4 linked regions of the Homo sapiens genome follow. The gene in region 3 interacts genetically with the main gene of each other region. Each region holds a gene or a part of one and is shown on either strand. Other genes may lie near its edges.

The links. Genes that interact genetically often act in the same process or in processes that back each other up.
Region 1: changes in BTF3 (region 3) and ACTR10 together harm fitness less than expected from each alone (positive genetic interaction), as found in Homo sapiens cells (one large-scale study listed by BioGRID).
Region 2: changes in BTF3 (region 3) and CMAS together harm fitness more than expected from each alone (negative genetic interaction), as found in Homo sapiens cells (one large-scale study listed by BioGRID).
Region 4: changes in BTF3 (region 3) and WDR70 together harm fitness less than expected from each alone (positive genetic interaction), as found in Homo sapiens cells (one large-scale study listed by BioGRID).

Annotation. Positions count from the first base shown.
Region 1 is NC_000014.9:58,233,643-58,236,136, reverse strand, and holds the end of ACTR10 (actin-related protein 10), read right to left. Parts: intron 1,768-2,494; coding exon 1,586-1,767; 3' UTR 501-1,585; downstream 1-500. UniProt on the Homo sapiens protein: Part of the dynactin complex that activates the molecular motor dynein for ultra-processive transport along microtubules.
Region 2 is NC_000012.12:22,056,218-22,059,717, reverse strand, and holds part of CMAS (N-acylneuraminate cytidylyltransferase), read right to left. Parts: intron 1,152-3,500; coding exon 1,018-1,151; intron 1-1,017. UniProt on the Homo sapiens protein: Catalyzes the activation of N-acetylneuraminic acid (NeuNAc) to cytidine 5'-monophosphate N-acetylneuraminic acid (CMP-NeuNAc), a substrate required for the addition of sialic acid.
Region 3 is NC_000005.10:73,503,805-73,506,167, forward strand, and holds the end of BTF3 (transcription factor BTF3), read left to right. Parts: intron 1-542; coding exon 543-599; intron 600-1,387; coding exon 1,388-1,434; 3' UTR 1,435-1,863; downstream 1,864-2,363. UniProt on the Homo sapiens protein: When associated with NACA, prevents inappropriate targeting of non-secretory polypeptides to the endoplasmic reticulum (ER).
Region 4 is NC_000005.10:37,718,318-37,721,817, forward strand, and holds part of WDR70 (WD repeat-containing protein 70), read left to right. Parts: intron 1-2,797; coding exon 2,798-2,898; intron 2,899-3,500.

The DNA.
Region 1 (2,494 bases), on a different chromosome or scaffold from region 3:
CAACCTATCTTTTTGAGGGACATAATTCAACCTATAACAGAGGGCTACATTCCTTAACTTCAGCCACTAGTTGTCTGCTACTTTATAGCTAGTTTTAAAGCTCTATTTCAGTCACAGATCCTGTTTTTGATATTATTCAATGATGAAAACTTCTCATAAATAATCTAAATTCACCAAAATATGAGGTCAATATAAATGTAAAGTTCATGTTTACTGAAAAAAGAGATAATGTTAATAAAATAGTAAATCCATCCAATTGGCAAATAATAGTATACCTATTCCTGGCAATCCTCCTGGGAGGTTTCAAAGTTAAGAAATAGACAAGCCTTGTTCTACGAGAGCTTATATTCCAGAAAAGAAGATAAAACCTCTGTTGAAACGATTACAAGGTAAAAGTTAGAAGTGCCCCAATTATGGATACTGTGCTTAAGGAAAGAGTGCTATGGAAGAGCGGTAGGACTAGAGGACACAGGTATCCCGAAAGAATGAAGCCAGCAAAATTTCAACAAGAGGTAGTTCATTAAAAACAAATGAAAAAATAAAATAAAAGTTAAATGATTGAGTACATATTTCAAGAACCTCTGCCCTGAGAAGATATAAAGCACAAACGCAAAGATTAATGACATTGTGAATACATTTTTATAAAGCAGTTGTAACCTTATATAAAAATGAAGTATCTTTTTTCTTAGAAATGTAGAATTGCTCATTAAAAAAACTGTAAAGTTAAAAAGTGAACATTTCCACACTTGGCTTAACAAATGCTTGACTATGTTACCAAACATTCTCAGTCCAAAGATCAAATATATTTCTGGAAAAACAACATTATTATAATATGGACACCCAAGTACCAAAATAAATATTTTTTTTAAATGGACCCATGTTAGTATTTGAAATAACTGGTAATGGTTAACACTATTTATGCTTTAAATGGAGTAACTGCTGGAAACACAATTAATGAGCCCAGAACAGGTTATGTGAACTGTGGAGAAATACTGTTCTTTTTGAAAGACAAGCAACATAGGCTGGTACAGTGGTTCACGCCTGTAATCCCAACACTTTGGGAGGCCGAGGAGGGTGGATCACGAGGTCAGGAAATTGAGACCATCCTGGCTAACATGGTGAAACCCCGTCTCTACTAAATATACAAAAAATTAGCCGGGCGGGGTGGCGTATGCCTATAGTCCCAGCTACTCAGGAGGCTGAGACAGAATGGCGTAAACCCGGGAGGCGGAGCTTGCAATGAGTAGAGATTGTGCCACTGCACTCCAGCCTAAGTGACAGAGCGAGACTCCGTCTCAAAAAAAAAAAAAAAAAAAAAGCCACATAACAAACTTCCAAAATCAAACTGCTTTACTATACTTTATTGATATAAATACAGCAAATCTCAATAAGCACCAGCTACCATTTTACCACTACACAAGAGAAACAAAGTCAAAAGAATTATATATTAATGCAAAGAGTAAACACAGAATGCTTTCACTTCCACTATAGTCCTCTATAACAAAACATCCTACATACTTTGTACAATTTGCTTATAATTGGTTAAATATTTGATATGAAGCAAGGTTGATTTTTAATCAAACTTCTATTTCTCAGTGGAAAATGCTCTCTTCATCAGAGGTGGTTGAGTTTTCCCGACATCAAACATCATTTCCAAAGGTGGGTTATTGAGAGAACACCAATCAGGTATACGGCCCGTCTGATTATAATATTCCTTTGAAACAGAACGGCTCCCAAGTATATCTTGTAATGCTCCAAAAATAGCCCCTGTGTGACAAAAATATTTTTTATAGCTAAGATGAAAACTTTTACCAGAAAACTTTATGTACACATACATCTACTTCACTATATGACAAAAGTGGACTGGTAAAATTCAGCAATGCATAGCCACAATCTTCAAAGTAATTCCAGTTAAGCCATTCTTTATTTTACATTTTGAATAACAGGGTAAGCCATAACTCCATGTTAAAGTAATTGAAATGGCCTTTAGCAGATAATAGTGAATATGATAACAAGTATTATTGCATTTAAAAGCAAGTGAGATAGAGTGGAGTGAAAGTATTTTCAACTTTGTGTAAATACAATCAATAAGATTCTGAGTTTTCTCTCTCACAACTAAGGTTACATATCAATAAATAAAATGGTACTGCAAAACCCAATAAACATCATCATAATGTCCTAACATACTATACTGAAGACCTTATTAAGACCCACAAGGCAGTCTTTTAAAAACAATTCCATTACTAAATCAATTTGTCCTAGATCAAAACTACGTTTTGACCAAATTCTATTTTACAAGAAATAATGTAACATTCATTTTAAAATGTCATACTACTCTTTCTCTAAATGCACAATCCTGATACCTTCTAGCTCTAACTGCATCATAAAACACATATCAGAACCTGTATAAATGTACATATTCATGATTGTTTTTCCCTTCAAAGTAGTTACAGCTGATCCTTGAACAATGCAGGGATTAGGGGTGTGGACCCCC
Region 2 (3,500 bases), on a different chromosome or scaffold from region 3:
CAATTTTTCTGAACACTTAAATTTAACTAAACAGCTAGTCTATAGTTTGCCTACACATTGACCAGAAGATTTGTAAAAATGTTTTTCTCTCTTTTGCTCAGAATAATAGTCCCATTAGAATTTTTATTACACAATGGAGAGGTTTCTCTCTCTCTCTTTAAAACCGCTATTTCTTGAGTAACATAAGAACCTGAATCCAAATCCTGACAGTACCATTTATTAGCTGTTTTTGCCTTGAGTCAATTACTTCATATTTCAGTGAGGCAGTTTTCCTCCTCTGTAAAACTGGGTAGAAATGTCCACTTCATTCATTCGCTATGCAGATTACATAAGATAACATATGCAAAGTGTTTCACCTACTCCGAAGTACACAGTAAATAATAAATAATAATGATAACTAAAATTAACAAGTTAAGAAATATATGATGCAACCATGTTGCAGGCTCTAAAATGAGAGAGACATTAAATCTGTTATTTGAAAATGAGAGTCAGGACAGATAAAATGATACATATTCAAGCTTACATAGTAAGAGGCAGTTGACTTAAAGTATAATAAAAAAAAAAAAAAATATATATATATATATATATAAAAAGATTCCGGGTTTCCTGACACCCAGGTTGTAACTCTTTTCACCTCTATGAAATTATTTGTCTTTTTAAAGCAATAGAAGTTATTCAACCCTACAGCCACAATATAACTATAACACAAACATGGATTACGTAGTTTTGAGTGGAATAATATGAGTACCAGGACATGTGTAGACACCCAGTACTTGATTCATTTTTTTATCGTTGTAGCAGAATTCCTTGCATATTTACTGAATGGATTCCAAAGATCACTTTGGGGTAAACCTGCAGGATAAATGCCTCAGATAGCAAATGTTGTTGGCTATTACCTTTCCTCTATAGGTTGATACTTTTCTTTATCATAAAGAAATTGTACCATACTTCTTCCCTAGAACTCAAAGTATGCCTACAAAAGCGCTTAAAAGGGTTATGCAAAATGAAGGTACAAACCTGCAAGTAACCCATCTCTATCAAATGTCTTTTAGCAAAATAAAATGAGCCATTTTCATATAATTCTCCATCCCAGTCTTGTCGACGAGGCCGTTTAGCTGGATTTAAATTCAGAGGTTCGGTCACTTCACGAACTAAAAGCAAAAAGTTAGAGTAAGTCCACGTTGCCCTGAATATAGAAAGTGTTAATTTAGTAACTAAAAAAGTTAATAAAAATGAACTCAGAATGCAGAGCATTTCTTTATCTAGATAAAGAACTTTTCTTTTTTTTTTTTTGAGACAGAGTCTCGCTCTGTCACCCAGGCTGGAGTGCAATGGTGCGATCTTGGCTCACTGCAACCTCCGCCTCCTGGGTTCAAGCGATTCTCCTGCCTCAGCCTCCCAAGTAGCTGGGACTACAGGCATGCACCACCACACCTGGCTAATTTTTGTATTTTTAGTGGAGATGGGGTTTCACCATGTTGTCCGGGCTGGTCTCGAACTCCTGACCTCGTGATCCGCCCACCTCGGCCTCCCAAAGTGCTGGAATTACAGGCATGAGGCACTGCACCCGGCCTGATAAAGAACTTTTTTTAGGCTGAATGTGGTGATTCACGCCTGTAATCCCAGCACTGTGGAGGCCAAGGCGGGCGGATCACTTGAGGTCAGGAGTTCGAGAGCAGCCCAGCCAACATAGTGAAACGCCATCTCCACTAAAAACACAAATTTAGCCGGGCATGGTGGTGGGTACCTGTAATCCCAGCTACTTGGGAGGCTGAGGCAGGAGAATCGCTTGAACCCGGGGGGGGGAGATTGCAGTGAGCCGAGATTGCGCCACTGTACTCCATCCAGCCTGGGCAACAGAGTGAGACTCTGTCTCAAAAAAAAAAAAAAGAACTTTTTTAAAGGAATAAAATCTGTAATAATTCTGATGATTTATCTTTGCTTTCCAATAGCTACTAGAAAACTAAAGTATTTTATAATGAAATGTGGAACAATTAAGGTATTCATACAAATATTATGCTTTGGGAGGACATCAAGACAACCTTAAAGTAGCTTTAAAAGAACTGAATTTGTCATAAAATACCTATATTAATATTTGGGCCCTTTAATCTAGTTCTCATTGTTTGCATATACAGAAATAAGTTTTATTTATCTAATGTGGTTGAGAACTTGTTTTTATACAATTATTGCTGAAAAGTAAAGATTTCTCCATTAAATTATTGAAGATTTTATATTGATGAAAATGTTTATGTAACATATTATACATTCTTACCATTAGTTAAAAATATACTAAACATAATAATAAATTATGTTTATGAGTATACCTGATAATAAAGGCTCAGTAATGTCAACATTAATGAATAGAACATAATGTAATCAATGAAGACTTTGGTACTGTCATGTAGAGATTCCTTTGCCTTTCCACTGAGTTTTCCTCAAATCTGTGTGTGTGTGTGTGTGTGTGTGTGTGTGTGTGTATGTGTGTGTGTGTAATAGCTGGTTACTCTCCAGAATCTTTCTTCACTTTTTGCTGCCATTTCTGTGTTTATACAGGCTTCTAGGAATAACCTCTACTTACTTGTTTAACGAAATCATCCCCTGTTCAATTCCACCCCAGTGTTTGAAATAACCCAGGAAAAAACCTTAGCAAATACAAATTAAATAGCTAGAGATAACATAGCTTTATGGGCACTGGCTACAGAGTAGTGACCAGAACTCTCTCTATTCTCAAAAAGTATACAATCTAGGGGTAGAGACAGGTAATAAACCAACTAGATAATTCAAGTGGTACTTTGAAGAAAAGAGAGGGACAAATCTTTCCTAGTATCGGTGGCTGCTTTCTCCCTGGTCATATCTGCTGAGTATGAGGAGAAGGTACAAGAAAGATCAAGCTTTGCATAATCAGAGGGACTCTGCTGAGGTAGGCAAAAACTAGAAGGGCTTTCAATGACCTTGTGGACTTGAGTTACAGATTGTCATCTGTAGGAACCACAAACATATAGCTCGTTTTTCCCCACCTAATGCTTCCCCCTTACAAGACTTTGGCTGAGTGTACTGGGTGGGAAGCTGGGAATGGGCTGGAAAGCAGGGAGACATCATAATAGTATTGTGGTCATCAGATCCCTTAGTCTTGTTAGCAAGAGTAGGGTATGGGTGTGAGTGTCAGTAACACATACAAGATGTATCTCCTAATAAGACACCTATACTAAGAGGTGAGATGAAATTAAAGTTTCAACCCAGCCCAACTCCTAATTGAATCAAAGTGATCAGCCCCTTATCCTATCTTCCTGATAGAAGAAAAGGTGTACCCTCTCTGGAGGAAAATATGTACTCAAGTGTCTATGCCAGATATACAATTAAACATGAGCCAAATGAAGAGGCAGAAATAGGTGACTCACAATCAAGAAAGAAGCAGATTACAGAACTGTAAGTGACTAGATGTTGAAATTTGCAATCAAGGACTTTCAAATAGCTATCAAAAATATGTTAAATTAGAGGAA
Region 3 (2,363 bases):
TCCCACTGATGCCTGTATGGGCCTAGTACATAACTCTCCTGTGTACGTTCATATTCTTGTGTGATAAAGGAGAGTGGATGCTTACCACTCACAGACTCTTTAATTTTTTTACTTTAACTTTTTTCATTTCAGTAAGTGGTTGTTGAGCATCACCCTTATGCCACACACAGAGTAGTTGAGAAAATGGCATCTTCATTTGTCTCCCAAAATCTCACCATGATTTGGTATGTGGGTTTTACCTGCACTCTAAGAGTTCCCTACTGCCCTTATACTACCTCAGGGCCTATGGTGGCCCAGAGGGATTGAAAGGATGGGTATGGAATTTTGTTTGTTGGCTGTTCCTAGTATTTTAACCCATTTGTAGACATTAGAATATCATGTTATTGATAGTATCATAGATAAAATCCCAAATGTCCCTTATCATGGAAATAAGTTGTAACAACACTTGGCATTTCATCTGTTCTTTTTTTTTTTTTTTTTTTTTTTTTGGTGAATATTTATTAAAAACCTAGACAAATAATGTTTACATTTTCCTTTCATAGCTGTGGATGGAAAAGCACCACTTGCTACTGGAGAGGATGATGATGATGAAGTTCCAGGTAGGAACGTTTACTTGTGGTTAACCTAGAGAATCTTAGCAAGGGAGAATAAGAAATCTTTGTAGGAAAAACTACCCAGGGAAGAGGGGTGGTAAGTTAAGATGGACATAGATCTTACTTAGAATGAGAAAAATAATGCAGTATTAGGTAATTGAGAATTATGTTTATAGACTTGACTTGGCTTGTTTCTGTTTGGGATCCCAAGGATGTGTAGGTATCTAACCTTAAATATTGAATAAATAAGTATATATATATAGTACCCTAAATATAACTATTACCTGCAGAGCACTAATGACCCTTGCTCCCTACTTTGAAACTCATGAATTTACAAGAAGGTGTGGAGTTGTTCAGGTATCTTGGGATATATATATGCATTCTAAAATCTGTAGCAGCATAACTCCTTTGGGAATCATGAGACATTTTTGTCTCTTACCTGTTATTGGATAAATTTACGTTCTTCTAAAATATTTATTGGGCAGGAGAATCACTGGACTCATAAATATTCCCACTTTGCATAGACAGGTATCCTTAGGAATCCAGGAAAATTTTAACATTGTGTGTCATTGTATTCTTTGGTTCTGCTCCCCCACTATTGACCAATGTATGAGATGGGAAGAGGGGGGCATTTTTTTCACTTTTTTTTTTTTTTGCATTCTTGTTCTTGGGGCTATGACACAGTATTTATCATCATTGGCAAATGAATGTCTTTCCTTCATCCCCTTTTAATATCTGATAATTATTTGTAGATTTGGCTTTTTTAAGAATTTCTACTCTTTTCCTTTTCCTAGATCTTGTGGAGAATTTTGATGAGGCTTCCAAGAATGAGGCAAACTGAATTGAGTCAACTTCTGAAGATAAAACCTGAAGAAGTTACTGGGAGCTGCTATTTTATATTATGACTGCTTTTTAAGAAATTTTTGTTTATGGATCTGATAAAATCTAGATCTCTAATATTTTTAAGCCCAAGCCCCTTGGACACTGCAGCTCTTTTCAGTTTTTGCTTATACACAATTCATTCTTTGCAGCTAATTAAGCCGAAGAAGCCTGGGAATCAAGTTTGAAACAAAGATTAATAAAGTTCTTTGCCTAGTATACAGTTTTATTTTTTTATTTCATTGACACCGATCTGTACACAGTAAAAAAAATTGCTTATAGAAAGCTAATCATGGCATGTAATATGGCTGATAACCTTTGGAATTTGATTAAAGATTTAAAATCACGGTGTAGTGTAACAAAGGTGGTATAAAGTTCTCAGGTTTGAAAACTTTGCTCTCCAACAGTCCTTAGTGCTTCCATGATTTATATGGTGGGTGTAAATATGAGAATAGAGTATTCCTTAGTGGATAAACAGACATTTCTCCCTGATATTCTCTATTGTAAGCATATGTTAAGTGCCTTTTATGAATTACCTCGGTGTTATCTCCTTTATTCCTCAATTTGTGAAGAACTAATAGCTCCATTTTGTAGATGTAACCTGAGGTTTAGAACTTCTAAAAAGTAAAAGTAATCTCCAGATCCCTTCTTTGTAGGATATTTTATAAGGTGACTTGGAAAAGGTAGTGTTTAGAATAGGAGTGGCTCCTGGGTCATTGTCTTTTCCTTAAGTGTCAACACTAATAAATGAATAGGGTTATGTTTTTATTTAATAAAAAATATACAGTAAAATTGAGCATATACAGTTAAAAGAATTTATAATGTCTGCCACTATAATCAGGTTACCAGACAGTTTCATGGTCCCAGAAAATCCCTAAACATAGGGTTACT
Region 4 (3,500 bases), about 36 Mb from region 3:
CTGCTGCCCCTGGAAACTGCCTGTTTGGCTGGATGTCTTGGAATTTATCAGGCCTACATTGTGGATCTTTTCCAATTCTGCACCCTGCTCACTTGAAAACATATTTGAGAACTAGTAATCTTAGACTGCTGAGCCAGACCTCTAGAGAACCAAGAAAGAGAAATAACTCTAATACTGTGCCCTTAATATTGTCCTGGGCCATTTATGGGTGGCTGAGATTTCTGAAAGCCTTTGACAGCCGCTTTCATTATTCTGTGATTCATGTACATTCTCTCTCTCTAGGACCACATTAGGAGGAATCTAACCCTGCTACATTTGTAGGATACCTGAGTATAATAATGATATGAGGAAATCAAATTATTTCTCATGGAGTAATGATTTTAATTTGAAAATTGTCTCCAGCTCTACCTAGCAAAGCAATCCATTTAGGCATGGGTGAACTGTAGCTTTTAATTCATTCCTTTGGTGAACATTTTTTGAGCACCAGACACTAATCTAGGCACTTGGGATATGTTGCCAAACAAAACTGACTGAGATCTTTGCCCATGAAATATGTGTTCTAGTGGGGAAGGCAGACAATCAGCATCATTAATAAATAAGTTATATATTATATTAAAAGATGATACATGCTATAAAAAAAGAAAAGCAGACTAAGGGGAGTTCTGGGGCACAGTTTTAAATTGGGTGGTTTAGATAGCAATGACATTTAAGCAAAGACTAAAAGAGATGAGTCTTGGCTCAGATGGATTTCTTCTACATAGGGTTTCATAAACATGACTTCATGAAGTTATGTTTGTGACTCTCCTTATGTTTCCATATACCTGGCTGTGGCCATCTGGGAATTTCCAGTGGTCTATCTCAAATTAGTCTCAGTGGTGGAGCACCTAGAAGCTGCACTTTGTAGACCATGAGCTATTGATATACTTAATTACATCTTCCCAACCAGGAGCAATTTTATTAGGAGAAAATGTGACTTTTATATGTATGCATTATAAACTAGGTTTTACAAGCATAGGTACAAAGCAACAACAACCCCCCCCCCAAAAAATACCCAAACTATCAAATTAAATATATCTTATTTTTTCAAGTTTTTCTGTTAATATTTACTCACTATTATATTTGTTTTATCATCTTTTAGAACTTGCTAGCCTGGGTAGCAGGCACCATAGATTTGAGAAAAATTGTGGAAAGCAAGCCTAAAGTTGTGAAAACCTGCCCCTTTAACTTAATTTTCCCCCCAGCTGATGGGGAAAACACAGCCATTCTGATTTGATTTTCTCTGTACAATATCCCATTCCTCTTCAGTGGTACATAGGTTAAGAACCACTCTTCTAGAGTAAGTCTGTTAAATCAGATATGAATTAAATAAAAGTCTTGTAGACTCTTTTCAGCTTTCTCCTTAGTTCCTCTGGAATCTCAGGTAAGGGTTTGCAGCCATTTACCTATTTTTTTTTGGCCTATTTTTTTGCCATTCACATGGGAGTCAGAATTTTTATTTCTTTGTTTTTTTCTTTCTTTCTTTCTTTCTTTTTTTTTTTTTTAAGAGACAGAGTCTCACTCTGTCACCCAGGCTGGAATGCAGTGGCACAATCATAGCTCACTGAAGCCTCAAACTCCTAGGCTCAAGCAATCTTCCTGCCTCAGCCTCCTGAGTAGCTCGGACTACAGGCGCGTGCCACCATGCCCAGCTGGGAATCAATGTTCTATCAAAAAGGATCTGAGAGATTTCAAGATATTCTGTCTTAACAAAAGAGTGGAATGAGTAGAGACAAGGAACCAAAGAAATTCAGCCCAAAGTAGATTTAGGAGACGTAGTCATGATTTTCATTTTACCACTAGAACTATAAAATGCTAATATCTAATCATACCCTTTTCCCCTTTAGTCCCTATATATAGTTTGACAAGTGATAGATTATTAATAAACATTGAATTAATGCTTCCACTCATATCTTGTTCTATCAGAGTGAGTTCTATAGAACCTAGTACATGGGGTTTCTGTTTACTAACATTAGCTTCATCTTTTTTCCCTTTAATTCTGTCCACGCTATCCCTCCCACCTCTGCCCTCTTACCACAGACAAAAATTAAAAACAGGTTATAGTTCTCACTGAGAACTTGTGGTTCTTTTCAGCCCCAGAGCACCACTTATTTTCCTTACCAGTAATGAATTCATAGGATCATAACTTCCAGTGAACCTTCTCTTAAACAGCTTTTCATTTAGGTTAATGTCAAGTCTTTGTATTCTGTATCTCTGTTTTACTTCTGCTGTTGTCCTGCTGTTTTATCTCATAGATAGGGAGACATTATTAAATGCCTACAAATGTGCATTGTTTCTGAAAAAGCTTTATGAGATTTGGATCTTTGTGAACTAAAAACAATAACCACCTGGTCTCAATCTGCTGTCCAGAGGGACATATTGTATGTGTGTAAGAGCATGAAATTCGCTTCAGTGGTAAGTGTAACTGAGTTATGTGGATTTAGCATTCCATGATGCCAGCCTCACGTGGTAATGGACCTGGGAAACCTAATTTTGTGGTTTCAGGGCTGTCCAGAAAGGGAGATAATGTCAGGAAGAGAACATCTTTTTTATTTTTATGGAGTATCACCCAGATAATAAGTGATGGAATGGAATTTTACTTCAGGAACACAACTTTATGGTTTAAAAGAAAATGTCTGAAAGTTAGAGGTAAACCATCAGGATGATATTTGATATAGTAGACTAGCCATCAAAGTACCAGCAGGATTGTTTCCATTTTTATCTGGCCTCTTTAGTCAACCACTGCGCTTTTCCTTTGCAGAGTGTTGTTCGCTGCCTGTGGCATCCAAAGCTGAACCAGATCATGGTTGGAACTGGAAATGGATTGGCTAAAGTCTATTACGACCCCAACAAGAGTCAGAGGTATTTCATAAGTATTGCCTGTTTTAGATGGATGACAACAACTGGGGGGAGGGATTTCCCTCCCACCCCCGCTTTTATTTATTTCCCACTTTGATGGAGATCCACCCATTTAGAAAATGCAGCTGGAACAAAGTAAAGCCTCAAACTCCTGGTATTGTGCTTTAAAAAGGATTTGAATATTGCCCTTGATCCACACTGAATTCAAAGCGAAAGTTTCCTGGGAATTTGCAGTTGTTTAGCTGAAATGTTGAGTGCAAGGGGGAAAAACGTTCTGCCCACTTTGCATACCACCCTGGACAGAGGCATTAGCAGTGATACATGTAAGAGATTTAACAAAGCAGGGAACTAACCACTTACAGGAAATGGAATCAGCTTGTCCATTTTGCTTCTTTCTTTTTTGGCTTCTAGCAGTTTGGATGTTTGGCAAGATTATTCTCTGTCCGCAGAAAGGGACAGCACAGATACGTTTCCCCTCCACCCCCATGCCCACCCAAGTTTCAAACTTAAGCATACCACTGTATTTCAAAAGTCTGAAAACGTAACTAGAGGTTCAGTCATTTCCTCAGTTATTTCCGTTTTGCTTAGGCACAAAGATGGATATG